2 separate regions of the Homo sapiens genome follow, and region 1 is linked to region 2. The links come from fine-mapping of genetic effects on gene expression. A gene starts in region 2. The other region holds a variant in brackets. All regions are shown on one strand. Distances are from middle to middle. Region 1 overlaps RASGEF1C (RasGEF domain family member 1C). Region 2 holds the start of RASGEF1C (RasGEF domain family member 1C).

Region 1 (14,794 bases), 32 kb after region 2:
TCTCTGTATTTAAACTTGGGTTCTTGTAGACAGCATTTATGTGGTTCTTGCTTTCATATCCAATCTGAAAATCTCTGCCTTTTATGTTATTTTATTTATTTATTTAATTTTTTGAGATGGAGTCTTGCTCTGTCACTCAGGCTGGAGTGCAGTGGCACGATCCCGTCTCACTGCAACCTCCACCTCCCGGGTTCAAGCGATTCTCCTGCCTCAGCCTCCCGAGTAGCTGGGATTATAGGTGCACACCACCATGCCTGGCTTATATTTGTATTTTTTTAGTAGAGACAAGATTTCACCATGTTGGTCAGGCTGGTCTCAAACTCCTGACCTCAGGTGATCCACCCGCCTCGGCCTCCCAAAGTGCTGGGATTACAGGCATGAGCCACTGCATCCAGCCCAAATCTCTGCCTTTTAATTGGATTGTTTAGAACATTTACATTTAATGTGATTAAGATATTGTTGGATTTAAATTAACCACCTTCTATTTATTTATTTATTTATTTATTTATTTTTATTTATTTATTTCAAGATGGAGTCTCGCTCTGTTGCCCAGGCTGGAGTGCAGTGGTGCAATCTCTGCTCACTGCAACCTTCATCTCCCAGGTTCAAGTGATTCTTGTGCCTCAGCCTCCTGAGTAGCTGGGCATGCGTCACCACACCCGGCTAATTTTTGTATTTTTAGTAAAGATGGAGTTTTACTATGTTGACCAGGCTGGTCTCAAACCCCTGACCTCAAGAGATCTGCCAGCCTCGGGCTCCCAAAGTGCTGGGATTATAGGCATGAGCCATCACACCCGGCCGGCTGTTTATTTATTTGATCTGAAATCTATTCTGAAATCTATTTATTTATTTATTTATTTATTTATTGAGATGGAGTTTTGCTCTTGTTTCCCAGGCTGGAGTGCAGTGGTGCCATCTTGGCTCACTGCAACCTCTGCCTCCTGGTTCAAGCGATTCTCCTGCCTTAGCCTCCCAAGTAGTTGAATTACAGGCATGCATCACCACACCCGGCTAATTTTGTATTTTTAGTAGAGACGGAATTTCTCCATGTTGGTCAGGCTGGTCTTGTACTCCCGACCTCAGGTGATCCACCTGCCTCAGCCTTCCAAAGTGCTGGGATTACAGGTGTAAGCCACCATGCCTAGCCTTTATTTTTTAATTGTTTCATATGTTTTTCCTTGTATCTTTTTTTTTTTCTGACTTCTTTTGAATTAATTGGGTTTTTTTTTATGATTCTAGCTTATGTCCTTTGTTGATTTTTTAAGCTATATCCCTTTGCTGTGTTATTTTAGTGCTTAATTTAGGTATCATTCATTGCATTACTTTTCTGTTGCTACCCAAAACATTAAACCGATCTTGGTAATGTAAAACACAAATTTATTATTTTAGAATTTTCATGAGTCAGGGGTTCAGGGTCTCACAAGTGTGGGGCTTGGGTCTCATCTGTGTTTTAGTGTCTTCTTCCAAGCTCATGTGGCTGGTGGCAGAATTTATTTCCTTGCCACTGTAGACTGCATGGTGGCTTGCTTCTTCAAGACCATCAGGAGAGTCTCTGATGCAAGTATCTGACCTTTTTTTAAAAAAGCTTATCTGTTTAGGTTACACTCATGCAGCATAATTTCCCTTTTGATGATCTCAAAGTCAACTGATTACAGGCTTTACTTAAACTTGCAAAACTCCCTTCATCTTTGCCAGATAACATCACCTAATCACAGGAGTGACATCCATCATATTCACAGTCCTGCCTATACCTAAGAGGAGAGGGGATTGTATGGGGTGTGTACACCAGGGAGTAGGAATCCAGGGCCATCTTAGAACTCTTCTGACCACCACAGCTTGATCCCAGTCTCCCTCCAGGTGATAGTGAGAGGTGAAGCCAGCTGGACTTCCTGGGTCCAGTGGGGACTTGGAGAACTTTTCTGTGTCTAGCTAAAGGATTGTAAAAGCACCAATCAGCACTCTGTAAAAACGCATCAATCAGTGCTCTGTGTCTAGCTAAAGGATTGTAAAAGCACCAATCAGCACTCTGTAAAAATGCACCAATCAGTGCTCTGTGTCTAGCTAAGGGATTGTAAAAGCACCAATCAGCACTCTGTAAAAATGCACCAATCAACACTATAAAATGGACCAATCAGCACTCTGTAAAATGGACCAATCAGCAGGACATGGGCAGGGACAAATAAGGGAATAAAAGCTGGCCATCCCAGCCAACAGCGGCAACCTGCTGGGGTTCTCTTCCAGCTGTGGAAGCTGAGTTCTTTTGGTCTTCACAATAAATCTTGCGGCTGCTCACTGTTTGGGTCCGCGCCACCTTTAAGAGCTGTAACACTCACCGTGAAGGTCCGCGGCTTCATTCTTGAAGTCAGCGAGACCACAAACCCACCGGAAGGAAGAAACTCCAGACACACCACCTTTAAGAGCTGTGTAACACTCACTGTGAAGGTCCATGGCTTCATTCTTTTTTTTTTTTTTTTTTTTTTTTTTTGAGACGGAGTCTTGCTCTGTTGCCCAGGCTGGAGTTCAGTGGCGCGATCTCGACTCACTGCAAGCTCCACCTCCCGGGTTCCCGCCATTCTCCTGCCTCAGCCTCCCGTGTAGCTGGGACTACAGGCGCCCGCCACCATGCCCGGCTAATTTTTTTTGTATTTTTAGTAGAGACGGGGTTTCACCGTGTTAGCCAGGATGGTCTCGATCTCCTGACCTCGTGATCCGCCCGTCTCGGCCTCCCAAAGTGCTAGGATTACAGGCGTGAGCCACTGCGCCCGGCCCATGGCTTCATTCTTGAAGTCAGCGAGACCACAAACCAACCGAAGAAACTGTGGTCTCAATAGTGTGCTGCTGCATATATAGCATGAAGACATCCTGCCAGTGGCGTTCATGCTCCACTCAGCCTTGTGTTTGTATCACTTTCCTAGGGCTGCCTTAACAAAGTGTCACAGACTGGGATGGCTTAAAACAACGGAAATGTGTTCTCTCATTTGGAGTTCTGGATCAGGGGCTCATGGGACACATTCCCTCTGAACCCAATAGAACCCTTCCCTGCCTGTTCCCAGCTTCTGGCGGCTTGTTAGAAATCTTCTGCATTCCTTGGCTTGAAGCCGCATCACTCCAGTCTCTGCCCTCAGTGTCACATGGTGCTCTTCCTGTGTGCCCACGTCTTCTAAGGTCATTAGTCATGTTGGATTAGGAGTCCACCCCACCCCACTCCACTCCACTCCAGTGTGGCCTCCTCTTCACTCATTACATTTGCAGTGACCCTATTTCCAAATAAGGCCTCGTTTTGGAGATATTGGAGGTGAGGACTTCAGTCATCTGTTTAGGAGGGACTCAGTCCAACCGACGACAATGCTAGTGTTGTCATACATCTCTTTTCCACATATTTATAAACCCCACACTACAGTATTATTTTTGCTTTAAACACTCAAGTATGTTTTAAAGGCATTTTTTAAGTCTTTTATGTTTACCTGGTAGCTGCCATTTCCTTTGTCCCTGATCCCGGTGGGATTGCAGCCCAGCAGGACTGGCACATCCTGGGGAGGCACTGCCTGACTGCCAGTGATGGGAGGGGCAGAGCCCCAGGCTAGTAGTCCGCAGCCACGTGGGGTTCCTGTTCGTCCTCTTGCTCCTGCATTTAGGACAGGTACCCACCTGGGCGTGACGCATTTCGAGTTTCGTGTGAACAGTGATTGATAGTGCCCTGCGTGGTGATCCCTCCCATTTCTAGTTTTGTGTGAACATTGATTGATAGTGCTGTATGCGGCGATCCCTCTTGGTGTTTCTTTGCAATTGAAATTAAAGGGTTAGTGGGTGAAGAGGGGCACAGGTGGACTTTTCAGGGTCTGGAAATGTTCTGCTTCTCAATCTGGGTGCTGGTGGCCTGGTTCACTTCGGAGATCTCATCTAGCTGCACGCTTCAAGCTTGTGTGCTTTCCAGGATGTAGGTTATACTCCAGTAAAAAGGTAAACAACACAACCACAGCCATGCTGGCTGAAAAGAGAAGCTGGAGGCACCAGGGCCCCTGCTTGTGGCAATGGGTTTGGCCGTTCCTTGGGCAGGAGCCAGGTCCTGGGGTGCTCCCACCGATGGCCAGTCTGGGGCAGCGGCTTTGCTCCTGGCACCTCTGGGCAGGGACCTGGGACTCAGGAGCAATGACATCTCTGAAAGGACTCTGCAAACTGTGAAGTGAGGTACACACATGTCAGACTGCAAATTGTTAAGTACTGTGCACATGTCAGTCTGACTGCAAACCAAAGCATGGTGCACCGGCCAGTTTGTCTTCTGACTGCTTTGGGTCGTGGAGCTCGTCTCAAACAGCAGCAGTGGTGGCACTGGCTTTAGGAAAGAGGCAGCTTTGTGGCTGTCATAAATCTGACAGCAGCGGCCAGGCCACCCTTTCCACCAGCCTGCATGTGCACAGCTGACTTGGAGTCAATCAGACCTGCTCTTTGTCGAACTCAAGCATGCCCTAAATGCTTCTACTTGTTATTACCTCCACAGACTGAGAGTGGCTGGAGAGAGAGGCAGCTGTGCCCGCTGCCTTTTTGTGTAATTGGCTGCTGGCTTTCCCCCCAGAGCTGCTGGTGGATGTGCTACAGGCAGTGTGAGCAGGCCACCGCCTCCCAGGGCTTGGGGTGGCCCTGGCCTGCCCCCGCCTAGCTGGCAGCTCCATCACTGCACTCCACCTTCTCTCTGCCCACTCGCCCGGTCCTTCCTTTCCTTTGTGCTTTTCTTTCTGTTGGTAAAAGTAATAAAAACTCGTTGACGGACGCAAAGCCAGGAATGTAGAGAGGGTAAAGGAGGAAACTGACACCTCTTACTCCCCCAGTTCCACATCATGAGTCTGCTATCATTTAATGTACACGACTTATCTCTGGGTACACGGAGATGTACGTTTTTGTTTTGCAAAGATCCATTCATCCGAAGCATAGTGTGCATTGTTTGGCTTCTCTCCTTCAGTAGCTCAGAGCTTCTTCCTCAGGGTTCCTTTCAGTATTCCTTGAATGGAGAGACCACAGTTTGCATACCTGACGCCCAGTGGCAGGACGCGTCTCCTTCCCAGCCTCTCGGCAGCGTGGGAGCCTCCTCACCCTGGCAGCTGCTGTATTGATCACTGCTTTCTTGCTGGGTTAGCTCCTTAGGGTAATTGCTGGGTCTGAGGTCAAAGGTGTCGGTGCAGGCTGGTGCAGGCTGGCTTCTGCCTTCACGCCCCTGTCCTGGGTTGGTCTGCTCAGCACACCATGGGTTCCCTGGGCTGCTCCACTCCCTGTGCACCACTGGCCCATCCATCGGCCCTTCTCTCCTGAAATGCTGCCCTCTGGGCTTCCAAGCCCCCTCCTGTCCCTGGGCTTCCTGCTGCTCTTACCTCCCACCACCCTCTACTCCCTTCTCCCTGCAGCCTCCCTCATCTCAGACAAGTCACCCAGGTGGGTAACGCACAAACCCCGGGGGCTGAGTGCTCCCTTTATGTCAGCAGTCCCCCTCCTGCATCCAAACATCAACACGGCCCATGCACGCCACCCTCCCAATCTGCGCAGAATGCAGGCACTGGGCTGCATGCCCCTGATTCCAGCTCGATCCAGACCCACGACTCTCCCTCCAGCCCCAGCCCGTTCTTCACTCAGCAGGCAGAGACGCTGCAGGACTATCCCATGGTCATAAACCCGCCTCCTCCCGGCCCCAGGCCCCATGGCCGGGGGCCTCCCTCATCCTGCTTCAGCCCTCAGACCTTGCTGTCCTTGGCTTCCTCCCCACTCCGCTCCTTGGCACCTGCGCCCCTCCCCCCCCAAGAACATTCTCCAGTCCCTTCTGCTGTTGAATTTTAGACCAGCTGTCCCCTCCACATATCAGCCGGGGGTGCATTAGGCCCATTTTACATATAAGGCTGTCTGAGGAAAGTGACGCCCCGGGGTCTCATGGCCAATAAGGACCCCGCCCACATCTGCGCCGTGGTCTGCTGCGTGGAAAGCCGGTGATGAAAGCCAGCAGCAGCTGGTGATGGTGCACTTCAGAGCTGGGGTGTTAGGTTCTTTCTATTTCAAGTGGAGAAACCCACCTCAGACTTAAGGACTCAGAAAACGCATTTGCTTCTGTAAATAAAAAGCCCTGGGATAGCCAGTCACGGTGGCTCACACCTGTAATCCCAGCACTTTGGGGGGCTGAGGCGGGCAGATCACTTGAAGTCAGGAGTTCGAGACCAGCCTGGCCAACATGGTGAAACCCCGTCTCTACTAAAAATACAACAATTAGCCTGGAGTGGTAGTACATGCCTGTAGTCCCAGTTACTTGGGAGACTGAGGCAGGAGAATTGCTTGAATCCAGGAGGCAAAGGCTGCAGTGAGCTGAGATCACGCCACTGTACTCCAGCCTAGGTGGCAGAGTGAGACTCGTCTCAAAAAAAAAAAAAAAAAAAAAAAGCCAGCCGGGTGCAGTGGCTCACACGTGTAATCCCAGCACTTTGGGAGGCTGAGGCAAGCAGATCACGAGGCCAGATAGAGACCATCCTGGCTAACACAGTGAAACCCTGTCTCTACTAAAAATACAAAAAAAAAAAAAAAATTAGCCAGGCTTGGTGGTGCACGCCTGTAGTCCCAGCTACTCAGGAGGCTGAGGCAGGAGAATCACTTGAACCTGGGAGGCGAAAGTTGCGGTGAGCCGAGATCATGCCACTGCACTCCAGCCTGGGCAACAGAGCGAGACTCCACCTCAAAAAGAAAAAAAAAAAAAGCCCAAGGTGGGCTTCAGGCATGGCTGGATGTGGGACATGGTCTCGGTCTCTGTGAGTCTTGGCTCCGTTTCCTCCATGTGGGCCCCTTTCACAAGAAAGCCCCCACCAGCTCCATACTTACTTCCTGTCCTTACCTTGCCCTGAGCAGAGAGAGAGGCTCTGCTCAGACAGTTCAAATAAATGTCCCACGAACTGAGTCTGGTGGCCCACCCAGGTGACATGCCTGCCCATGGATTTATCCCAGAGGCCAGGGAGATGAAAGGCACTGAGTGGCTGGGCCTGGATCACATGCCATCCCAACTGTCACAGACCAACGCAACTCCTTCCCCAAGTGGCACCAGGGCCATGTCCTCCTACCACGGGCAGGAGAGGAAGGACAAATGGGCTCTGTTTTCAGAGGGAAGAACAGATGCTGGCCAGGCAGAAGCCGCAGAGGCCATGGCCTTGGACAGCTGCAGCAGGGCTGAGCCTTGGCAG[G/C]GGTCCCGGAAGGAAGCCCGGGGCTCTGCCCTGCCCGTGGACTGCTGCGGCCCAGCCGGGCAGATTGCGCAGGCACTCACCGAAGAGCTTTTGCTGGGGCTGCTGGGACTAAGGAAGGTTAAAAATGGAGCCGATGAACAGCCTGTGTCTTTGGGGAAGCTGCTGGGTGAGCCGGGCAGGCCAGCCCCTTCACTGGGTGGGGAGGTGGGGCCGGAAAGGGAAAGCAGCCCCTGGCTTCGGGGCTGAGGGGCTGATGTGCACATGGTTTGAATGCATCCTCTACTCGGCTGGACGTTTCTGGAAGTAGCCCAGCCAGCCCCCCATCCCACTGCCCCTCATCCAGCCCCTCCGTCAGGCTCTGAGAGTCTCACCTCTCACCCTGGTCCTCCTCCATGCTGGCAAAAGTTGCCGTCCCTTGGAAACCCCTCGTCTGCAGCCCTCTCCTCTGGGAGGTTGACCAAGGTTGGGTGGGAGTTGGAGGCCAGGCCAGGGGCCCTGTCTTGGGTTATGCCAGGGGGAGACATGGGCAGGACTGACCACTGCCCAACCCTGACGGCTGGCACCACGCAGCAGTCATGCTTTCATAGCTTCTGCTGTGGCTGAATCTTTCTGGAAAAAAGTATTAGCCCCGGGACCAGGCGCGGTGGCTCACGCCTGTAATCCCAGCACTTTGGGAGGCCGAGGCGGGCGGATCATGAAGTCAGGAGATCGAGACCATCCTGGCCAACATGGTGAAACCCCATCTCTACTAAAAATACAAAAAATTAGCCGGGCATGGTGGCAGACGCCTATAGTCCCAGCTACTCGGGAGGCTGACACAGGAGAATGGCGTGAACCCGGGAGGCGGAGCTTGCAGTGAGCCGAGATTGCGCCACTGCACTCCAGCCTGGGCGACAGAGCAAGACTCCATCTCAAAAAAAAAAAAAAAAAAGTATTAGCCTTGGAAAGCCAAGGCCCTCTGTTACCTGAGTGGCACAGCTGGGCCCGCACAGGCAGCCTTTCCCCTCTGCCTGGTCCTGGCAGGGGCAGGAGGGTGCGATGGATGGCGCGGGGCCTGCCTCATGCAGAGCCCAGAGCAGCAGAGACTTGGCCAGAAGTCGTTATTGTGGTGACTGGATTGATGGGCTCAGGTGAGGCTGAGTCTTCGCAAGATTAAAACAGGCACTCAGCGTGGCTGGGTCAAGTGCCCTCCCACGGCTGCTCTGCCTGCCAGAAGCCTGCAGGAGTGGGGAGGCCTGGGGCTGGGGCCCCTGCCTCCAGGGCCCACCTGCTCTCTGGGAGGCATGGCCACCAGGGCCCAGGCCAAGGGACTTTTGTCTAAGAGACCCCAAACCAGGAGGTCCTGAAGTCCACCCTATCCAACATCCACGTGTCCTTGTCTCCTTGTGGCCAGCGATGTGGCCTCTTTGGGTTGGGCTGATGACTGAACACAGTAATGCAGCATTGTCACTGTCTCTAGCCATTATTATGTGTTTCTTTGAATACCTTTCTTTTTTCTTCGAGACGGAGTCCCGCTCTGTCGCCCAGGCTGGAGTGCAGTGGCGTGATCTCCGCTCACTTCAAGCTCTGCCTTCCGGGTTCACGCCATTCTCCTGCCTCAGCCTCCCGAGTAGCTGGGACTACAGGCGCCCGCCACTGCGCCCGGCTAATTTTTTATATTTTTACTAGAGACGGGGTTAGCCAGGATGGTCTCAATCTCCTGACCTCGTGATCTGCTGCCTCAGCCTCCCAGAGTGCTGGGATCACAGGCGTGAGCCACCGCGCCCGGCCCTTTGAATACATTTTTAAAGGCATGTCACTATTGCATTAGAGCTCATAGATATTCTTGGCGGGGAGAAGTGGTCGTTTTAAACTGTGGATTGATGCGGGGGACATGAGCATGTGAACAACACAGGGACTGCTCAGGCTCGGGAAATGTCCCGAGTGTGGCCCTGGAGTGGCTCCTTCAACAAGCACCGAAATGCAGGTTCATGGCCTGAGGGTCCTGAGCCCAAGGCCGGGCTCTTAGCAGGACTCAGGGGGCTGCACATGGCAGGTGTGCCCAAGAAGCCCCAAATCTGAGACTCCTTCTCTGCTTGAAGGAGCTGGCCAGGATGAGTCTGGAGAGCAGCAGGGCTGCTCAGGAGCTGGGGCGAGGCCTGGGCATCTGCATTTTCCAGAAGCTCCTCTGGCGTCTGGGGGCCTCTGAGCATGCTGAGGGTGGGCACAGGTGTCCAGTGCCTGCCCTGCACAGAAACGCCTTTCCCCGGCGCTGGGGGGGCTCCAACCCCAGAGGCTAGGCCAGGCTGGCTTCTGCAAAGTTGCCCATAGCCAAGTGACCTCTTACACAGGACTTGGGTTCTCACACCATCTGCTCCTGGTCTGGAGTGTCTTCCAGGATGGCGGCTGGGTCCCTGGTGTGGAGCCCTGGGCAGCAGGTGCTGGCCGCTGGGGCCTTTCCCCACCTGAGCTGCCAGGGTCCCTCTGTGTGGAGACCCTCTCAAGTCTGAAGCAGAGTCCCTGTGCCTGGCAACCCTAAACCCACTCTCAGAAGATGATAAAACCCACTATCAGTTCAAGTCTGCAAGAGGGGTGGGACAGTCTCGTGACCTCATGTTCTAGCTGAGTGACATACATAGCACAGGTCGGCCCCTCTCTCTGAGCCTCGGTTTCCCTTTCTGGGAAAAGCAGATCAGAGAACTGCTGCGCAGTGAAGTCAAGCAGGAACCGGTCACGATCGTGTGTGCGATCTGTGCGCATGCTGTCTGAGTGCTGGCTGTGGACCACAGCCCAGAGAGGGGCCTGCACCCAGGATTCCATGTGGAGCCACTGGGCTGGGGGTTCAGATGCACCCCACACACACATGCACGCACACACACACACACACACAGACACACACATGCGTGCACACACACACACACGTGCGCACACACAGACACACGTGCACACACAGACACACGCACACACGCACACACAGAGACACACGTGTGTACGCGCACGCACACACAGACACACACGCGCACACACAGACACACATACACACAGACATGCACACACGCACATGCACAGACACACACGTGTGCACATGCACGCACGCACACACAGACGCACACACATGCATCTCTGACAAGGGCCTTTTCTCTGCCTGCTTGAAGTTTCTGAGGGAAGCCAGAGAAAACAGTATGTTTCTTTGTTTTATCATAAACTGATGACTTCATCTTCCCTCGTTCTTCCCAGAAAAGACGATGACGAATTTGTTAAAGTTTAGCTGTGAGAGCCTCTTCTTATAGCAAGAATGAGAAGTATTTAAATGGCTCCTTGCTTTTTGGAGTTATTTTCAGATAAACAGTCTGCCCGAAGTCACTCAGCATTCATCAAGCCCACACCACGGCCCAGGCTCCATGCACTGAGTGTTTCTCTGGTGCCCACCGTCTCCAGGCGGAAGGAGCCCCCGAGAGCAGCAGCGAGGAGGACCACACTTCCCCAACTTTCTGAGACCATCCCCACGTCTGGGCCCCCCAACCCCTGAGCCTCCATGTCATGGATCACAATGAATGAAAAATTGCGCAGGTTTTTTTTTTTTTTTGGTGGTTGTTTTGAGACAGTCTCGCTCTGTTGCCCAGGCTGGAGTGCAGTGGCACAATCTCAGCTCACTGCAAACTCCGCCTCCCGGGCTCAAGCGATTCTCCTGCCTCAGCCTCCCTAGCAGCTGGGATTACAGGCGCCCACCACCACGCCCAGCTAATTTCTGTATTTTTAGTAGAGACGGGGTTTCACCATGTTGGCCAGGCTGGTCTCAAACTCCTGACCTTGTGATCTGCCCACCTTGGCCTCCCAAAGTGCTGGGACTACAGGCGGGAGCCACCGTGCCCGGCCAACTGCACCAGTTTTAACTCATTCCCCCAAATTTGAAATTTAGGGGAGAAATGAAATTCTTTTCTCTTTCAATTCTTATTTCTCTGTCATTTAAGATTTTCCAGACCTTGACAGATACATCTCCAGCTAGAAGGAAATGGCCCCAGGGAGTGACGTCCACATAGCTGCTTCTGCTTAGACAGCTGTAGTCAGTGTGGGATCTGCCTTCCCCACCTCAGGGTCCCCTTCATGGCCTACACCCTGGGCAGCCACAGAGGCTTTGGTCTGGAAACCGGGTGGCAGGCTTAGGTGGGGCAGAGGGAGCAGGTGACGGAGACAGTGAGGTGGTGGCATCCCCAGGTCGAGGGGCAGCCCTTGGTTCTGGCCAACAAACAGTACCAGGCAGGAATGCAGGCCCTGTGTAGCTGGCTCTTCTGAGTTTTTGCAGGAAAGCAGACGCACTGATTCTCCTGAAAGGCCCCAGTGTGTAAATAAGGCCAGTAAATTCGCAGTCTAAAAGGGCATTATGCAACCCATGCAGGACACCCAGGCGGCTTGTCAACTGCAGGTGACTTAACTGGAGCAGGCAGGAGAGCCAGGCAGGGTGCCGCAGGTCCTGCCAGGGGACAGAAGGGCCCCAAGGGCTGTGCTCAGCTGCCAGGGTCAGGTTGGGGCAGAGGAAAGGAAGATGCATTGACCCTCAGGGCCTCAGCTGGCAGACTGGCAGGAAAGGGCAACCCAGAAGAGGATAGAGCATGGGCAAAGGCATGGAGGCGGGAGCACAGGGAGAGGCACAGGGAGGTGAGGAGCACAGGGAGGCAGAGGACAAGGGAGGTGAGAAGCGCAGGGTGGCAGGGAGTACAGGAGGCAGGGGGCACAGAGATGAGGAGCACAGAGGAGCCCAGGGAGGTGGGGAGCAGGTGGCAGAGGTGGCCTGGCCTCCCCTCTTGGGGAGCTGGGCGTGAGAGAAGGGCTGGGAGCCCGAAGCTCTGGGGTGGAGCCTCAGGCAGAGATTCTGGAGAAAGGACAGTACAGACCTGGCTCTTTGCCAGCTGGGGCTGGAAGGCCCTGGCAGACACCCGGGGCTAGGCTTTGTGGGAGGGTCTGAGAGAAGTGGCGGGCAGGCAGCATCTGGAGTGGAGTGTGCCACAGATTCCGTGTCAGGCTGCTGTGCCCCCTGTCCCTCTGCCCCTCAGCCCTCATTTCCTTGGCTGCCTCATGACCCCTGGGCCCTGGTCACATGCAGGAGAGAGGCCAGGGGAACACACGCAGCAGTAGAGAGCTGGGCATCCCAGGCCAGGTGGCCGTTCCTGCCTAGGAGGAGGCATGGGAGCCTTCCTGGAGGTGGCATCTAAGGGCTGGGGGAGCAGGTGGGAGGGACCACCAGCCATCTGGGCATGCTGGGGCCCTGAGTGCTCAGGCAGGCTTGGGACACCCAGTGGCTGCTGTTGCCCACTGTGCTCTCATCACAGGGAAGGTGGCCCTGCCCGTCCTGCCTGGCCTACCTTTAGGTGAATCGGACAGGGTAGATGGGCAGGGCAGAACACACAGATCTATTTATAGCTATTGAGACTTTTTAAACACTATTTTTATTCCTATGAATGTAAGGGTAGAAGTGCAGATTCCTTGCGGGTGTCGGCCTTTAGTGCACCCACTGACCCCACCCCTAACCCAGTAGGCCCACCTATAGCATGGGTCTCGTGAGCCCACTTTACAGATGTGGAAGCTGAGGTCCGACAGCTGAGGGGCCCGCCCCACAGCCAGGCAGCGGAGGAGACCCCAGTGGGCCCACACCCTGGCTGCCGAGCAGGTCCTGGCCCTCACAGCCTTACCTCCCAAGACCACTCTTTGAATTGACTCCCAGAAGCCGCAGGGAGAAAACAAAGCATTTATTTTTGCTACGCATTCGCTGTTCTCCAGAGTGCCGAAGGGTGTTTGTCAGGAGGTGTGGGTGACACACGCCATCACTTGGAGACAGAACTGGCTATTTTTGCCCTAGACTCTGGCATCCCTGCAGGGTGCCCACTGCAGTGTGCAGGTGCTCAGGCAGCTCACGCTGACCTGCGTGGGGACAGAGCCTGGGACCCAGGGGCTGAGTGTGAGTGCTGTGGAGGCCTGCCCTGGAACAGACAATCCACACGTGTGACAGTTATTTCAGCACGTCCCTCGGCCTCGGAGGTGGGCTCTGAGGGTGCTGGGGTGCTTGTCACTGCGGGGTCTCCCATCTTCTCATGGGCGGGTTGGATTCCCCGGGCTGTAGGAGGAGGTGCTTGTTAATGTCCTTTTTCCACCAGTCTTCAGGTCTGAACACGAGGCTGCTGCTGTGGCCTCTGGGGTCAGCAGTTTAGGACCTGCCCTCCCTTCCCCAGAAACAGGTCACACTTCTTCCAGATCCTCCCAAGCAGAAAGTCCCGGGCTCCTGCAGCTCAGAAGCCTCAGACCCTAAGCTCCTGAGAATGGTTTTCCTCCCTGTGCTCCCCTGGCTCCTTCCCCCTGAAGATGTGAAGCCCTCGGGGGTCCCACTCCTGGGCTGGGGGAAGGCCACAGGATGCCTGGATGGGGGTGCCTGGCTGCACGCGTCTCACACTGTGGTCCCTGAGTCCTGGAACTCCGGCCGCGTCTTCTGACCTGGGCCATCTGCATGCTCTCTGGGATTCAGGGCCTCCAGTTTGGAGCAGCAGCGCTGACAGCCCCTCCTCCCCACTCTCCAGGCAGGGAAAGGCCCCCAGGGCAAGGTGGGGACAGGGGACAGGGGCAGGGGCAGGGAGCCCTGCCTGCAGGCAGACCCACACCTGCCACCAAGTTCCGACTTTGGCCCTGAAGACAAGCGGAGCAGGACCGGGGTATGCCACAATGCACCTGTGAAGCCTGTTTGGCTGTCGGGGCTCCGAGGCAGGTGGCCAGGCAGGCAGGCCCGGGAGGGAGAGGTCTGGTGGCCCCATGCAGGACTGGGGTAAAGGGAGAGCACCGCTGGGGGGCCAGGTGTGGCTCGTGACTGCCACAGGGACCTCCGGAAGGTTCGATGAAAGAGGAAACCAGATGGTGACTTTGGCAGGTCTCAGGAGGGCAGTGAGCCTGGCCAGGGCGGGGGCTCCGCGGGGACAGGCGAGGACCAGGCAGCAGCTGCGTAGCGCGGGGGCTGGAAGGACAGTACCCCTCGGCTGGGGCGTGGGGAGTTGAATGAGACGCTACAACTTGCGTCCCTGGCCCTGCTGGCTTCACACATCTCAGAGCAAGTGGGATTTTCACACAGAGCCCGATATTCATTCTCGTGGTAAATAGGACGCTTGTTTTCTCCCTCACAGAACAGGCCCGCGCCCCTCCTTGCAGCTGCCTCCTGGCTGGCGGCCCTATGGGAGCAGCCGGGTCACCTCTGTCAGCCTCAGCCCTGGCCAGGGCCTCCTGAGCTCTCGGCCCCTCCCCTGCTGCCCGGCTTGGTCCCCTCCCGCATCCCGGGGGCCATCATTCACTCACTCACTCATCCACTCGGCCAGGAGGCTTTTGCTGAAACCTGCTCTAGTGCTGGGGTGCAGCCGCGAGCAGGAACAGGCAAGGTGGTGCCCCAGTGGAGCTCCCAGTCCCTGGGGAGACACATGGATTTGGATTTGGAGAAAAGCCACGAGGAAAATGAAACGGGGTCCAGGGTGGAGAGCGGCTGGGCAGCCAGTGCCGTGTGGAGCAGTGGTCACGGAAGGTCTCCGAGGGAGGGGCAGGCAGAAGCCCTGCGGAGGCCTGGAGCAGGGAGCCCAGGGGGAGGA
Region 2 (14,794 bases):
ATGGTGACAGGCTAAGGGCCCGCACACCTGCCCAGGTCGCAGCCCTGCAGGGGCTCTGTTCAGCCTGGGGATTCTGCAGTCCTGCAGGGTCTCCTCCCCGGCCCCCGCCAGTGCTTCGCACACGGCGCACATGTGGCCCACCAGAAACCCTCACCACGTTCGCCACAGCTCCCTGCAGCACCTCCTGCCGACGTTCACGGCAGCCGCTCACTCTTGCTTGGAGGTTTTCTGTCCTGTGAACCTAAAAACTTTGCCACACGTGTGCCCAGGTGTCCAGCCTGTTCGCCAAGGTGCCTGATTCACATGTGCTGAATGAGCAAACACGGGCACCCCTGGCAACTTCCCACAAGGACATGGGCACCCTGGCTCCCCGACAGCCCGTGGCACGTTCCGGTTGTCTGCGGGCCCTCTGGGAAAAGCGACAGGCCCAGCCATAATGTACGGGAAGGAAACAGTTGAGGCAATGGCTCCCTAACTTGGCTGGGCTCAGGACCACTGGAGCACCTGCTAACAGACTCGGATTCCCCAGCCCTGCCCGAGCCCTCTGAGTCAGAAGTCTGGGCAGGGGCCTAGGGGACATGCGCCTTAAGCCAGCTCCTGGGGGAGGCCAGCACTGCTTCACGACCACTCTGCCCAGCCAGGCTGTTGGCTCTGGGGAGGGGAATAGCCCAAGCCCAGTCCCATAGGCTCCCACCCACACGGGGCAGCCAGTGAGAGATGTGGGAGGCTTGGGCATCGCCTGCGCGAGTCACCCGATTTTCCCAGCCTCTCTTGTGGGATGGTGTCTTCCTTTCCTATTGCTGCTGTCGCAAATTACCACCAACGTAGTGGCTCAAAGCAGCACAGTTCTGTGGGTCAGAAGTCCAGCGTGGGTCTTAGTGGGCTGAAAGCAAGGTGTTAGCAGGGCTGGTTCCTTCTGGAGGCCCTTGGGGAGAATCTGTTTCTTGGCATTTTGCAGCCACCCACATTCCTCTGCTCATGGCCCCTTCCTCCAAAGCCGGAAGGGCAGCATCTCCCAGACCCCGCTCCCATCGCCGCCTGCCTGATTGCCTTCTGCCTCCCTCTTCCACGTGTAAGGACCCCTGTGATTACGCTGGGCTCACCGGGATAATCCAGGATCATCTCACCATCTCAAGATTCATCTAATTCCACCTGCCAGGTCCCTTCGGGCACCCAAGGCAACATATCCACAGGTTCTGGGGATTAAGAAGTGGTCTTCTTCAGAGGTCGTTATTCTGCCTACCACAGATGGGGATGGTAAGCCTGGATCCCTCTACACCAGCATTTCTGGAGTTTGCCCATCTTCGGCTTGCATCAGCTTCACCTGGGCCACTTGTTCCAGATACCGAGAGCAGGGCCGCCCAGACCCCAACCCCACACCCGAGCCGTGGGTTGCTGGCTTTTCCTAGGCATTCCAGGTGATTCCACACATGCTGACATTTGATAGCCCGGGAGAGATGAAACCTCGAGTGTGACAGGTGCCCTGGGGTACTCTGTAGGGAAGAGGAGGGTTACATCCCCAGCCCTCAGCTACAACCTGACGGCCCCATCGAGTCACAAGTTCCCCCAAGCTTTGGGGTTGAAGACCCTCGGGAGGTGCTTCCCGTGCCTGCAGATTTCACTCTGCTGGACGCTTTCCCCAGGACCCAGGAGGACTCCCCAAACCTAAACCCATGCTCCAGGCCACTTGGGACTGCTCATGCCAGTGATTCAGCAGGTGGGGCCAGGAGTCCCTGCCAGCAGGGGTGCCCAGCCTGCCTCCTCCTGGTGAGGCATGACTGGGTGAGGGGATGATGTCAAGGACTCAGAAGAGCCACAGGCCCCTCTCATTTCCATGCCCTATTATAAACATAGATGGGCATGGCCCAAGGAGAGCCTGGTTACCAGTGCTCCAACACTGCAGGTCACCCCTGGATAAGCCACCTACTGCCTATGGGTGAAGGGACCCTAGCAGGGTGGTAGGGGAGGGAGGTGACCTCGTGGACTTAATGCGGGACCTGGGGGAATCTTGAGTGTTCCGAGGGGTGCACTGCAGCTGGCAAGGTTTGCACCTGCACCACGAGCTCTCCACCTGCGCTCAGCACAGTGAGCAATGGCTCTATGCTGGAACCTTGCAGTGACCACCTCCAGCTCCTGCATTTCTGCCTCTGGAATGTTTCTTAAGCCCCGGAACTCTCCTCAGCCTTCATGCAGCAGCAACCTGAAAGCATAGGAGACGTGGGGGAAATCCTCTGCCCAGCAGGAGAAATTCCGAGATGCTTCCTGCAGTTCCCCAAAGGGGCTCCACCAGGCTGGTCACCTGGGATCCCCCCCCCACATAAACAACCTGCACCCACATCTCTACCTCTGCTCCCAGGGGATCCCATCTGTGATGCTTTCCTTCATCTTTGGGCCAGTCCAGATTGGGATCAGACCCACACTTACCCTCCACACACGTGCATACGACACGTGCATACAACACACACATGCACACAGCACACCATATGCACACAGCACCACATATATGCACACAGCACACACACACATGCACAAACCGCCCACACATGAATACAGCACACACATGCATATAGCACACACATGCACAGCACACCACATGCATACGCTACACACACATGCACACAACACACACATGCACACAGCACATGCATGCACACAGCATAAAACATACACCACACACATGCACACAGCACACAGGCACACAGCATAAAACATACACCACACACATGCATACACCACACACATGCACACAGCACATAGGCACACAGTACCACACATACAGCACACCCACATGCACACAGCACACACATGCACAGCACCACACACATGCATAGAGCACAAGAATGCACATGGCACCACACACATAGGCAGAGCACACATGCACACAACACATACATACACCACGCACATGCACACAACATACATACATGCACGCAGCACCAACATGCACACAGCACACACACATGTGCATAGCAGACAACACACACATGCATATACCACACACTCATGCACACAGCATCACATATATACACACACGTGCACAAAACAGCGCTACATACACAAGCATACAACACACACACATTACACACATGTGCTGCATACACATGCATAGAACACACCACACATTCACACAAGTGCACATACACATACTGCATATACCATGCATGCACACATGTGCAAATCCATATACACACACACACCCTCTCTCTTGCTCCTCCCAGCCCAGGCTCAGTGGGTTGGCAGCCCTGGACTGTAAAGGATCATTAAATGTGGCCCCCTCCCGTGGCTGACTATAGGATGACTTCTCCTGGAGCTCTGCCCTTGCAGTAACTTTGGAGGGTTTTCACCAGACCAAGAATGGACGAGTTACGGGTCGGCTAATAAAATGCTTTGGCCAGAGCCCAAAGTTCTGTCCTCAGTGTTTCCTGATTTTATTGGTGAACTTGCTCAGCAGCCTTGCCCGGTGCCCCTTCCCTGAGTCACGTGCTGTGGCTGTGCCAAGCATCCCGGGCAGACGTACTGCAGGGCCTCACAGGCTCCTGCTCTGCGTAAGCGCCTGCAGCTGCTGGAGCCCGTGCTGTCCTTCCTTCCTCCCTGAGGACCCGCACCAGGCAGGCACCCGCAGGCCCCGCTGCCTCCAGACCTCCTCCACATGCCCCTGGCCCCACAGTCCCAGCAGGTGCTGTCTGCTGTGAAGGGGCTCCTCGCCCTCCTGGGAAAGGTACCCCATTCATCCTGCCAGGACCCCTGCCATCGCTGTCACTTCTCACACATTCTCCTATCTCCCATCATCCAGTCCTGTGGCTTCTCCCCCAGAAACAGCCCTCAGGTCTGCCCCATTCCCTGCCCCCTGCCCAGGTCTGTACTCATCAGCTCTCCCCTGCCTGCCAACTCCTCGTGGGCCTGCTGCCTGTCCCTCGTGGCCACACCCAGTGAACAAGGACTCCAGCCCCACTAACCCAGTGCTGCGTTGGTGGGGCACACTCAGGTCTCCCAGAGTCACACGTGTGCAGGATGTGCCATCCAGGCCAGGGGCAGCTACGCAGGGGCTGAAGGTGCTGGGAAAGGCCTCATGGGTGTCAGGACCCCTACATCTGGGGACAGCACCACCCCCTCCTGCTGGGGGTGCTGCTGGCAGAGCTGCAGCCACACCTGCCCCTGTGTCGACACCCAGAGGACAGGATCCAGCTCCTTGCCCACCTGGACACCCTGCCTGGCCCTGTTCCCTTCCACCTTGGCTCCAGCCTCTTTTTTGCAAAAACAATGCAAAGTCCATGCCAGCCACAGGGCCTCGCCCTTGCTATTCTCTCTGCCCACGGTGCTTTTCCCAGACCCTGTATGGCCAGTGCCTTGTCTGATGTGCCTGGAGAGGCCCTTCCTGGGCCCTCCCTTCTAAAGCAGCCCCACCGCACTCAACCACCTCCCCAGTATGGCTTCCTTCATGGCGCTCGGCGCTCTCCGAAATGATTGTTTTTACTCTTTTGTTTGTATGGTTAGTTTTCAGCCTCCCTTCTCTAAACCATGAGTTCCAGGGGGCAGGAACCCCATGTCGGGCTCTCTGCTATATTCCCAGCACCCAGCATGGTGCCCGGCACACATAGGCCCTAGGTAAGTGTCCACCCAATAGATGTCTCAGGGCAGTGGTGGGGTGAGGGGAGACTGAGTTGACGGCCCTAGGGATGGCTCACCCTCTGTCCCAATGCCCTCACTCAGGGATTAGCCCCGGGGCACGTTCTGGAGTGAGAAGTTGGGTGGGCAGGGTAGGGGCTGGGCAGGAGAGGTTCCTTGCTAGAGGGCACTCCTGGGTGGGCTATGAGGGGGCGGGAGCAGATACCTCCCAGGGCCCAGTGGTGGCACCTGCAGCCAGGGTCCCACAAAGCTGGAGGCTCAGGGCAGAACTCCACGCTGGCCGCGAGGCTCAAAAACCTTCCTGGTGTTGCATGAGCCGCGACTGCAGCTCATGCGTCTTCCTCAGCACAGGCCCAACTCTCGGCAGCGATGGGTCTGGCAGGGAGAGGACGCAGGAGACCTCAGGGGACACGGTCTTCTCCTTTGTCCCAGAGCAAAGCTCTGCCACCCTCACCCCTGTGGGACACGGAGCTGTGGCCATGAGCTAGTCCACACCCATGTTCCAGTTGCCCTGGCCTCATCCAAGCATCCCCTACCCTGCTCCCAGCAGGGCAATCATGCTTCAGTGGCCCCAGCCACTTGCTGGAGAAAGTTCTTTATCAGGGGACAGCAGCCTTTGCTCACAGAGCAAGGGTGAGCTGGGGAAAGACTGGCCTCACCACCCTGACCTGCACTTGGTTAGGAGGGCCGCTCAGTGCTGCCCAGACCCCAGAACAACACAGCTGAGTGGGTCAGCTCTTCTGAGGTGCCTCTTGCGGCCTCTCCTCCTAGACTCCTGGCTTCCTCCAGGCGACACCCTGGGACTGGACCTGAGGCTTAGGGGCATAGGGTGATAATCGGAGAAGATGCAGGGAGGGCCCAGTGCCTGCACCCTGAGGCGCATCTGTCTATCTGCTGGGAGCACACTGCTCACCCCTGACCAAGTGCCTGCCTCTGTTCCTCCTCCCTTTCCCCACACCTGACCCTTGGTCTCAGATGTCACCCTCCCTAGGGCCAGCCTCTGGCCCTGGCCCTGGCCCCAGCCCTGCTGTCTCCCTGCCTAGCTACCTGGCCCACATTCATTCTAATACATCTGTATGCCCTAGGCAGCTGCCTGCTCTCTCCAGGACTCAGTTTCCCTAACTGTTCAAGAAATGGGCTGGACTGTTGTTCTTAACCTGTCCATTCTTCCAGGAACAGCCTTCACGGAAGCTTGGAACAGCACCTTACTCCATCCTCAAAGCTGACACAGGACTAACTCTGCCTCAGCTCTAGTGAGACGACACCCAGGCCTGCTATTCCTGCTCCCTAGGTCTTTGGAAATGGCCTGAGCTCAGCTCCTCGGAGCCTGTGTGTGGCAGCCGCAGGCTGTCCTTGCAACTATCAGGCAGCTGTGCCCTCTCTGAGGTGTCAACCCAGGGCCATTCTGCCACAGAAAGACTGGGAGATAGGGGAGGCCAGTTTCTATGCACATAGGTTAAGTACCTGGATCTAGCCATTCCTCTAAGCAGTAAACCTTGGCTTTTTATGATCCACAAACCAGCTTTTTGCTCAAGCTGGTTGGGTTGAGTTTTGGGCCACATCTCATCAGGCAGGTCCTGACTAAAGCAGAGTGAGGTGAAGGCAGCTGGAACTTCCGTGTCGGGTGGGGACTTGGAGAACTTTTCTGGCTAGCTAGAGGATTGTAAATGCACCAATCAGCACTCTGTAAAAACGCACCAATCAGCACTCCGTGAAACGGACCAATCAGCAGGACATGGGTGGGGACAAATAAGGGAATAAAAGCTGCCCGCCCACCCCTCGCCAGCCAGCAACAGCGGCGACCGGCTGTGGTCTTTTTCCCTGCTGTGGAAGCTTTGTTCTCTTGCTCTTCACAAGACATTTTGCTGCTACGCACTCTTTGGGTCTGCACCACCTTTTTCTTTTCTTTTCTTTTTTTTTTTTTTTGAGATGGAGTCTTGCTCTGTCGCCCAGGCTACAGTGCAGTGGTGCAATCTCTGCTCACTGCAAGCTCCACCTCCCCGGGTTCACGCCCTTCTCCTGCCTCAGCCTCCCGAATAGCTGGGACCACAAGCGCCCACCACCAAACCTGGCTAATTTTTTTGTATTTTTAGTACAGACAGGGTTTCACCGTCGCACCACCTTTAAGAGCTGTAACACTCACTGCCAAGGTCCCTGGCTCATTCTTGAAGTCAGCCAGACCAGGAACCCAGCGGAAGGGACAAACTGCGGACACAGGAGGACAGGTGTCCTGACCTCTATGCTGGGACCAACCAGGGAACTTTTCACTGAAGACCCAGTTCAAGGAGGCCACTGGATCCTGTTAGAGCCCCTCTCCCTTTCTAAAAGTGAAATCATGCATCGCCATCCTCCCAGAACCCCGGTGTCTTCAAAGTGGTGTCCACCCTCCCTGGGGGCCACGGGAGAGCGCCGAGAAGGTTGGGGAGGGGGGGTGTCCACCCAGGGATGTCCCATTGGGGGACACAGACAACCTAGGTGGCCAGTCCAGAGAACCGGGCCGGGCCCAGTCTTGAGGAGAGAGGGTGAACTGGGTTTTGGGGCGCCAGAGGCCCACCAGGTGAGGTGTAGGCTGGGGCAGCTGGGGCGCAGAGTCCGCCAGGGTCCGCGCGCGGGAGGGCAGCGTCTGACGGCCCGAGCGGGTGGTCCTGGCGCGGGGGGCCAGCCGCCGCGGAGGCCTGAACGCAGGGCGGGACGCTTGGCTCCGCGGCCGGGGCACGGAGGGCCCTGGTGTGCAGCGCCGCCCGCGGGCTCCCGCAGCTCCACCCCCGCGCCCCGCCCGCTCCGCGCTGCCTGAGTGCCACGAGGGGGCGCAGCGCCGCGTTGCTCCGGGGCCGCCGCCAGGCGCTCGTGCGGGCTGCGCTGGGAGCCGGGCGGTCGGGCGGCGGCGGCGGCGGCGGCGGCGGCGGCGGCGGCGGCGGGCGGCGCCCCGGTCCGCGGCGCCGAGGCTCGCACCGGGAGCTGCCCATGGGCCGGGCCCGGAGTTCCGGCGCGCCGGGAGCCGGTGAGTGGTGCGCGGCCGAGGGACACCTGGCGGTGCGGGCAAGGGCGCGGGCTCGCGGGGGCTGGGGAGGGCTGCCGGCGGCGCGGCGGGGTCGGCGGGAGGCGGGAGGCTGCGCGCGGCGCGGGAGCGTGCGCCGGGGTCAGCAGGGGCGGGGTCCGCGCGGCCGCCGGGACTGGAGGCGCGGGGGTAGCGGGTAGGGTACCCTGAGGGCACACCCCCGGCCACCTGGCGGGAGACCCAGCTCTGCCGCGCGCCGCCAGCCCCTGCTGGGCGCGAGGAGCAAGCTTCTTTCAGCCGCTAGAGTGGCAGGAAGAGCCAGCCTAGACCAAAGCCTCCACCCGCACCGGACCTCAGTTTCCCCGTCTATGAAATGGGGACGGGAAAGCAGACCTGCCGGTGCACGTGCAGAAGGGAAAGGGCCTTGCGCCTGGGGGAAGAGGGTGCTGTCACCCTTGAGGATGGGATCGGATTTGAGGAAAGGACCAGCGCCACTATCAGAGGGCCTGCGAGAACAGTGGGGTCTGCTGGGAGTCCTGGGTGTGTCCCTCACGCAGTGACAGCGGACGGCATCAAGGGACCACCTGGTCCACTCATTGTATTTAGATTGGGAAAGCGATGCTTGGGGGGACTTGGGGAAGGGTGCTGGCGACGCCGCCCCATGCTCAGCGTGGGCGTGGGAAACTGTGGGAAAGACAGAGCTGGGAAGTTGGGGTGCTGGTGGAGCTCTTCCGGGCCCGTATCTCCTGCCTCCTGGGGCTGTGGGAGAGACAGAAGTTCTGAGCCCCGGGAGCCTGAGAAGAGTCCTGGGAAGCTCTGCCTGCCAGGCAGGTGGAGTAACTGAGGTTTAGAGAGGGGCGGGACCATGGAGTGGCAACGCTGGGGTCCCACCTCTGGTAAGACTGGCTCCAACAGCCATAGTGCAGCCACTGTGCAGGCGACCGGTGGAGGGGGGCTAGGGTTGTCCACTCACTGGCCACATTCATTGAGCGCCTACTGTGTGCCGCCTGCTGCCTGCCCCCGTAAGTGCTCACTAGCTGGTGTGGGAGGGGACACCAAACAAGAAATCAAAGGCAAAAGCAAGGACATGGCCAAGATCTTATGCGTGCTGGGAAGAACATGCAGTAGGGTGACTGGGGCAGAGGGAGACCAGGGCGCGGCGGAGCCTTCGTCTGGTCAGGGAGGCTGTCCTGAGCGGGGAGCCCAGCCTGTGATGGACGGGTAGCCCGGGGGAACAGCGCGGGTGAGATCCCTGAGGGCAGGAGGGGGCGGAGCTGGAGCTGAGACGCTACAGGGTCTGGACGTCCTGGGCAGCCCCCAGGCGGTTTGCAGGTTGGGCGTCGAAAGGCTGCCCGTGGCGGCGGGTGGGCGCACTGCCGGGGCAGGAGAGGGAGGGCAGGCGAGAGAGGGACGGGCTGCGGAGCCCAGGGCGGGACTGGCGAGGGGGAGCCCGCAGGCCACCAGGTAGAGGTGGGGCCCTGCCCGGGACCTGGCCCTTTTCAGGCCGGGGTCTGCACCCTCCTGCCATGTCCCCGCCAGTCTCTGAGGTGGTTCCAGCTCTCACTTGTACCTGGACCCAGATCCAGAGTCAGCCATTTGTCCAAGGGGCCTTGGTTCCTTGCGTGGGACCCGGGCTTAGTGTGGGGCGTGCACTCGCCGCCTCTAGGCCTTGTCAGTGGACCAAGCCAAGGCCCCTTTTTTACTAAAAATTAATATTTCCTTTCCCTTTCTCCTGCAGTGAGAACCTTATTCCCCCAAACATGAATATATTTCATCATTTACTTAGCTCCACAATGCACCCCGAAAGAGTTTCAGAATGACTGCATCCACACCGAAGCCAACCAAAACCTGCTAGGTCAGCATCGGGATTTCCACGGGTGTGCAGGCAGAGTGCTGTGTGGTGACGTTATCAGTCGGACACACTGTTAGCTTCGTGTGTTTCTACTTGCATTCAATTTGGAGCTTTTTTTCCTTTAGACTTTAGGATGTAATTTTATTTTTTGAATACGTAAAACACATGGTTTAAAGGTCAGAACTATTAAAAAGCTATCCTTAAAGGTCTCAGTCCCACCCCTGCATCTTCTTCCTTGTTCCCACACCATTGGGAGCCATTTAAAATATTTTCTGGTTTATCCTTCCTGTGTCTCTTTCTGCAAAACAAGTCATTTAAGCATTATCACAAAAGTTAGCCGTACAGCTCCTGGTTTTTCTTCAGTTAGAAGTATGTCCTGAAAGTAACTTCTTACCAGTTCATGGAGACCTGGCTCATTCTTTTTTACACTCACATAGTATTTCGTTCTGTGGCTGTACTATTATTGTTTATTCAAATTATGTCCTCTGGATGAACAATTTTGTTTTTTTCCAAGTCTTTTTAAATTTAAAATAATGGAGTAATGGATAACTTTGCACCTATATTGTTAATGTTTGCAAAGGTGTATATTTAGAACACACTTCTAGAAGTAGGAGTGAATGTGGATTTATTTTGTTAGCTAGTCCCAAATTCCTTGTCAAGAGGTAGCACCGTTTTGCATTCCCACCACCGATGTATCACAGTGTCTTCTGTTTCCCCACAGCCTCGCTGGTTTGAGAGCTGAGAAACAGTATTTCAGTGTATTTTAAATTTATATTTCTATTATTATAAATGAAATTGGACATCTTTTCACATAGATTTGGAATCATACTTAGACTTTTCTAACTATGAAAAGCCCAATTATAAAGCAATCATCTGTGTTTTCTAATATTTGTTTAGTTGTGTACTTAGTCTCTGCATCCAATTTAATCTTTTTCTAAGTGTCTGGCACTCTGTCCCAAAGCCATTTATTTAAAAGGTCATCTTTCCTCCAGTGATCTGAAATGCACCTTTCTCATACACTAAAAATCCAAGCCCTGGGCCTGTTTCTGGGCTTTCTAGTGTGTCTCACAGGTCTGTCTGTTCCATCTGTTCACATACTGGTGAAAGAGAGAGAGAGAGAAAAAATATATTTAAAGGCAAGGAGGGCCTGGCACAGTGGCTCACGCCTGTAATCCCAGCACTTGGGAAGGCTGAGGCAGGCAGATCACTTGAGGTCAGGAGTTTGAAACCAGCCTGGCCAACATGGTGAAACCTTGTCTCTACCAAAATATATAAAAAATTACCCGGGAATGGTGGCACATGCCTGTAATCCCAGCTACTTGGGAGGCTGAGGCATGAGAATCGCCTGAACCTGGGAGGCAGATTTTGCAGTGAGCTGAGCTGAGATTGTACCCCTGCACTCCAGCCTGGGCAACAGAGTGAGACTCTGTCTCAAAATAATAATAATAATAATAATAATAATATTATAATAATGGCAAAGAGGACTTTATTCAAGACCATTGCAATAGAGGAGAGAGATTGGGCTCAACTCTCCTTGTTGTGTTTTAACATGTGGTGGGCAAGTTCCTTCCATCGCTTTTTACTGCAAGGATTTCCTGGCTGTTGCAGCACGTTGCTGCTGTTCGGGCGGGGAAGGAGAGCGTATTAAGTTTATATTAGGCTTGTATATTAACTTTAGGATAATTGGCATCTTTATGAAGTTGAGTTATCTTATCCAAAACTGAGAGATGTCTTTCTGTTTGTCAAGACTACTTCTAGGAGTGTTTTGAAATTTTCCTCATATATGTTTTTCCTATTTCTTATGAAGTTTATTCATGAGTATTTTTATCTTGTGTGTTGCTACTATAAATGGTTTTTTCTTCAATTATATCTTTGAATTGGCTACTGTTTCGTGTATGTTATTTTATATCTTTCTGTCTTACCTGAATTTTTATTGTTAGTTTTATTGTTAGTCTTTTTTTTTGTTTTTATTTATTTATTTATTTATTTTGAGACGGAGTCTCGCTCTGTCACCCAGGCTGGAATGCAGTAGCGTGATCTCTGCTCACCACAACCTCCACCTTCCAGGTTCAAGTGATTCTCGTGCCTTAGCTTCCCAGGTAGCTAAGATTACAGGTGCCTGCCACCACGTCAGGCTAATTTTTGTATTTTTAGTAGAGACGGGGTTTTGCCATCTTGGCCAGGCTGATCTCGAACTCCTGACTTCAGATGATCTGCCATCTCAGCCTCCCAAAGTGCTGGGATTACAGGCATGAGCCACCATTACCGGCCTGTTGTTAGTCATATCTTTGATTCTGTTAGTCATTCTGTCATCTACAAATTCAAATAGCTTTACTGCTTCTCTACTGATTTTTATGCTTTCTTTTATCTAATTAAATTGGCTGAATACCTCCAATTCAGTATTAAATATTGGATGTGGTGGGCCTCCTTACCTTGTTCCTGACCTTAGTAAAAAGGCCTCTAATACTTCCCCTATTAAGAAAGATGCTGACTTTAGGATGGGAAGAGATAGATAGATGAGATAGATAGATAGATAGATAGATAGATAGATAGATAGATAGAGGAATATCCATTGACTCCTATTTTATTGGCAGTTTTAAAAATCAGGATTGGTGTTGACCTTTGTTAGAGCCATGTATGTAGATAATGATCTGATATTTCTCCTGATTACTAGTAGCATAATGAGTCATGTGATGGATTTCCCAATATCAGGTCTGGGACTAGGCTGAGGTAAACAGACACAAAACGTATGAATATTAACACTAGGCCATCTTTGCATTTCTGAAATAAGTCCCACTTGGACATGATGTAGAAAATAGTTTGGCAGTTTCTTTAAAATTTAAACATAAAAATACCATATGACCCAACAGTCCCACTCCCAGGAATCTAAGAGAAATGAAAACAATGAAATGTCCACACAAAGACTTGTACACAAATGCTCATAACAGCATTGCTTATAATGGCCAGAAAAGTAGAGACAACGCAGTTGTTCATCAACTGGTGAATAAATAAACAAGATATATATCCGTACGATGGAATATAGTTTAGCAATTACAGTTGGCCCTTGAACAATGAGAAGGTTAGGGATGCTGACCCCCACACAGTCAAAAAGCTATGTATAACTTTTGTCTTCCCCCAGATTTCACTTTGTTGTTGTTGTTGTTGTTGTTTGTTTGTTTGTTTTTTGAGACAGAGTCTCACTCTGTCGCCCAGGCTAGAGTGCAGTGGCATGATCTCGGCTCACTCCAACCTCTGCCTCCCAGGTTCAAGCGACTCTCCTGCCTCAGCCTCCCAAGTGGCTGGGATTACAGGCGTGCACCACCATGCCCGGTTAAGTTATATTTTTGGTAGAGATGGGGTTTCATCATGTTGGCCAGGCTGGTCTCGAACTCCTGGCCTCAAGTGATCCTCCCACCTTGGCTTCCCAAAGTGCTGGGATTACAGGCGTGAGCCACCGCGCCCAGCCTGTAGTATGTTTCAATATCATTGTATTAGTTATCTATTGCTGTGTACTAAGTTATCATTGACCTAGTGGCTTAAAGCAACGCATGGCTTATTAGCTCATCATTTCTGTGAATCAAGAGCCTGGGCATGGCTTAGCTGAGTACTGCTGGTGGCCAGCACTAGGTTCTCATGTAGAGACTCAGCTAGGGAAGGATTTGCTTCTCCACTCATGTGGTTGTTGGCAGTATTTAGTTCTTTGTAGTTATATTTAGAGCTTAAAATTTTGGCTGGATGTTGGCTGGAGGCCAACCTCAACTTGTTAGGGTCACCCCCAGTTCCTCGGGACTACCCACAGGTCTTTGTCACATGGGCTTCCCCAGCATGACTGCTTACTCTATCAAGCCAGCAAAGAGTCCCTAGAGAGTCATAACATAACAAAACATAACATAGTATAACGTGACATACATGATATAACAACGTAACATAATCCCAGTAGTGATATCCTATCATCTTTGCCATAGTCTGTTGGTCAGAGGAAAGTCAAAAGCCCCACCCAGTCCCAAATGTATGAACACCAAGAGGTAGAGCTCATGCCGGTGAGCACCATAGAAACTGCCTGTTGGATGTTGGATTCTGATTACTAATATTTATTTTTGCCAAAGTTTTCCCAGTCACCCTTTGACTGGACAAAGCTTAGCTTCTGTTGGTTCCTTAAGAAAGACTTGTGAGTACTGGCCAGGCGCGGTGGCTCACACCTGTCATCCCAGCACTTTGGGAGGCCGAGGCGGGTGCATCACGAGGTCAGGAGATCGAGACCATCCTGGCTAACACGGTGAAACCCCGTCTCTACTAAAAATACAAAAAATTAGCCCGGCGTGGTGGCGGGCACCTGTAATCCCAGCTAGTCGGGAGGCTGAGGCAGGAGAATGGCGTGAACCCGGGAGGCGGAGCTTGCAGTGAGCCGAGATTGTGCCACTGCACTCCAGCCTGGGCGACAGCGAGACTCCGTCTCAAAAAAAAAAAAAAAAGAAAGACTTGTGAGTACTGTTATTTCCTGCTTGCTTGCTTTCTATACTCTTGCTACTTGAAGGATAGATTGGCAGGTTATAAAATCCTTGCCTCTTACTTTCTGTCCCTAAATTTTTAAAAATGTTGTTATGGGTTGTATTGCTTGTACATTGTTGACAAGATGTCTGATATAAACATGCCTTTCTTTCCTTTGTAAGTGACTTGATTGTTTTTCTGGAGCTCCAAAGAATTTTTTTTCTTTATTTTTAAAGTTTAATCATTTTACTAGGCATTCTCTTGGAAATGATCTTAGGTACGTGGGGGACTCTTTGAATATGCATATTTAAGTCTTCTTTTATTTCTAAAACATTTTCTTAGATTATAGTGTTAAATATTATGTACCATTATTTTACCTTTTTTCTTCAGAGATGCCAATAATATGTTTGTGTTAGATCTGTTTTTCATCTGTATTCTAGATTGCTTTCTCTATGAATTTTATTTTTGTTTTATGGTTGTTTTCATTAATTTCCTTAATGAACACTATTAAGCTTTTAGTCAAATCTGTTCTCCCTAAGAGATTTTCTAATTCAGTCTTCATTTCTGAGATGATGGTCTTTTCCTCATTTTTTTTCATGAGTTCAGGCAACTCTAATTTCACATTTACCTTTTTTTGGGTCCATTTCTGTTGAGTTTTTGAATGTATAATGTAGGGATTTTCTTCATGTGTCTGAATTTTTAGTGTGTCTTCATCTGTTCATCTGTATCAGAAACTGGGTTAGTTTACAAACAACAGAACGATTTCTCACAGTTCTGGAGGCTGGAGGTACAAGATCAAGGTATTTGGTGAGGGCCGCATCCTGGTTCGC

What was found. PIP is the estimated chance that this variant, and not a neighbour inherited with it, causes the effect.
Region 1: its variant is fine-mapped to the expression of RASGEF1C in monocytes (TOPMed, PIP above 0.99).

The regions. Positions count from the first base shown.
Region 1 is chr5:180,169,896-180,184,689 of GRCh38, reverse strand. All of the region lies in intron 1 of RASGEF1C (RasGEF domain family member 1C), which reads left to right. Among named protein-coding and RNA genes, the nearest start is that of RASGEF1C, 32 kb to the left of the region's middle. The variant G/C (reference allele first, on the strand shown) is at 7,203.
Region 2 is chr5:180,201,861-180,216,654 of GRCh38, reverse strand. It overlaps RASGEF1C (RasGEF domain family member 1C), which reads left to right and starts at 7,444. Exons shown (of 14, transcript NM_175062.4): 1 at 7,444-7,627. RefSeq lists a silencer at 7,309-7,528 and an enhancer at 8,653-9,445.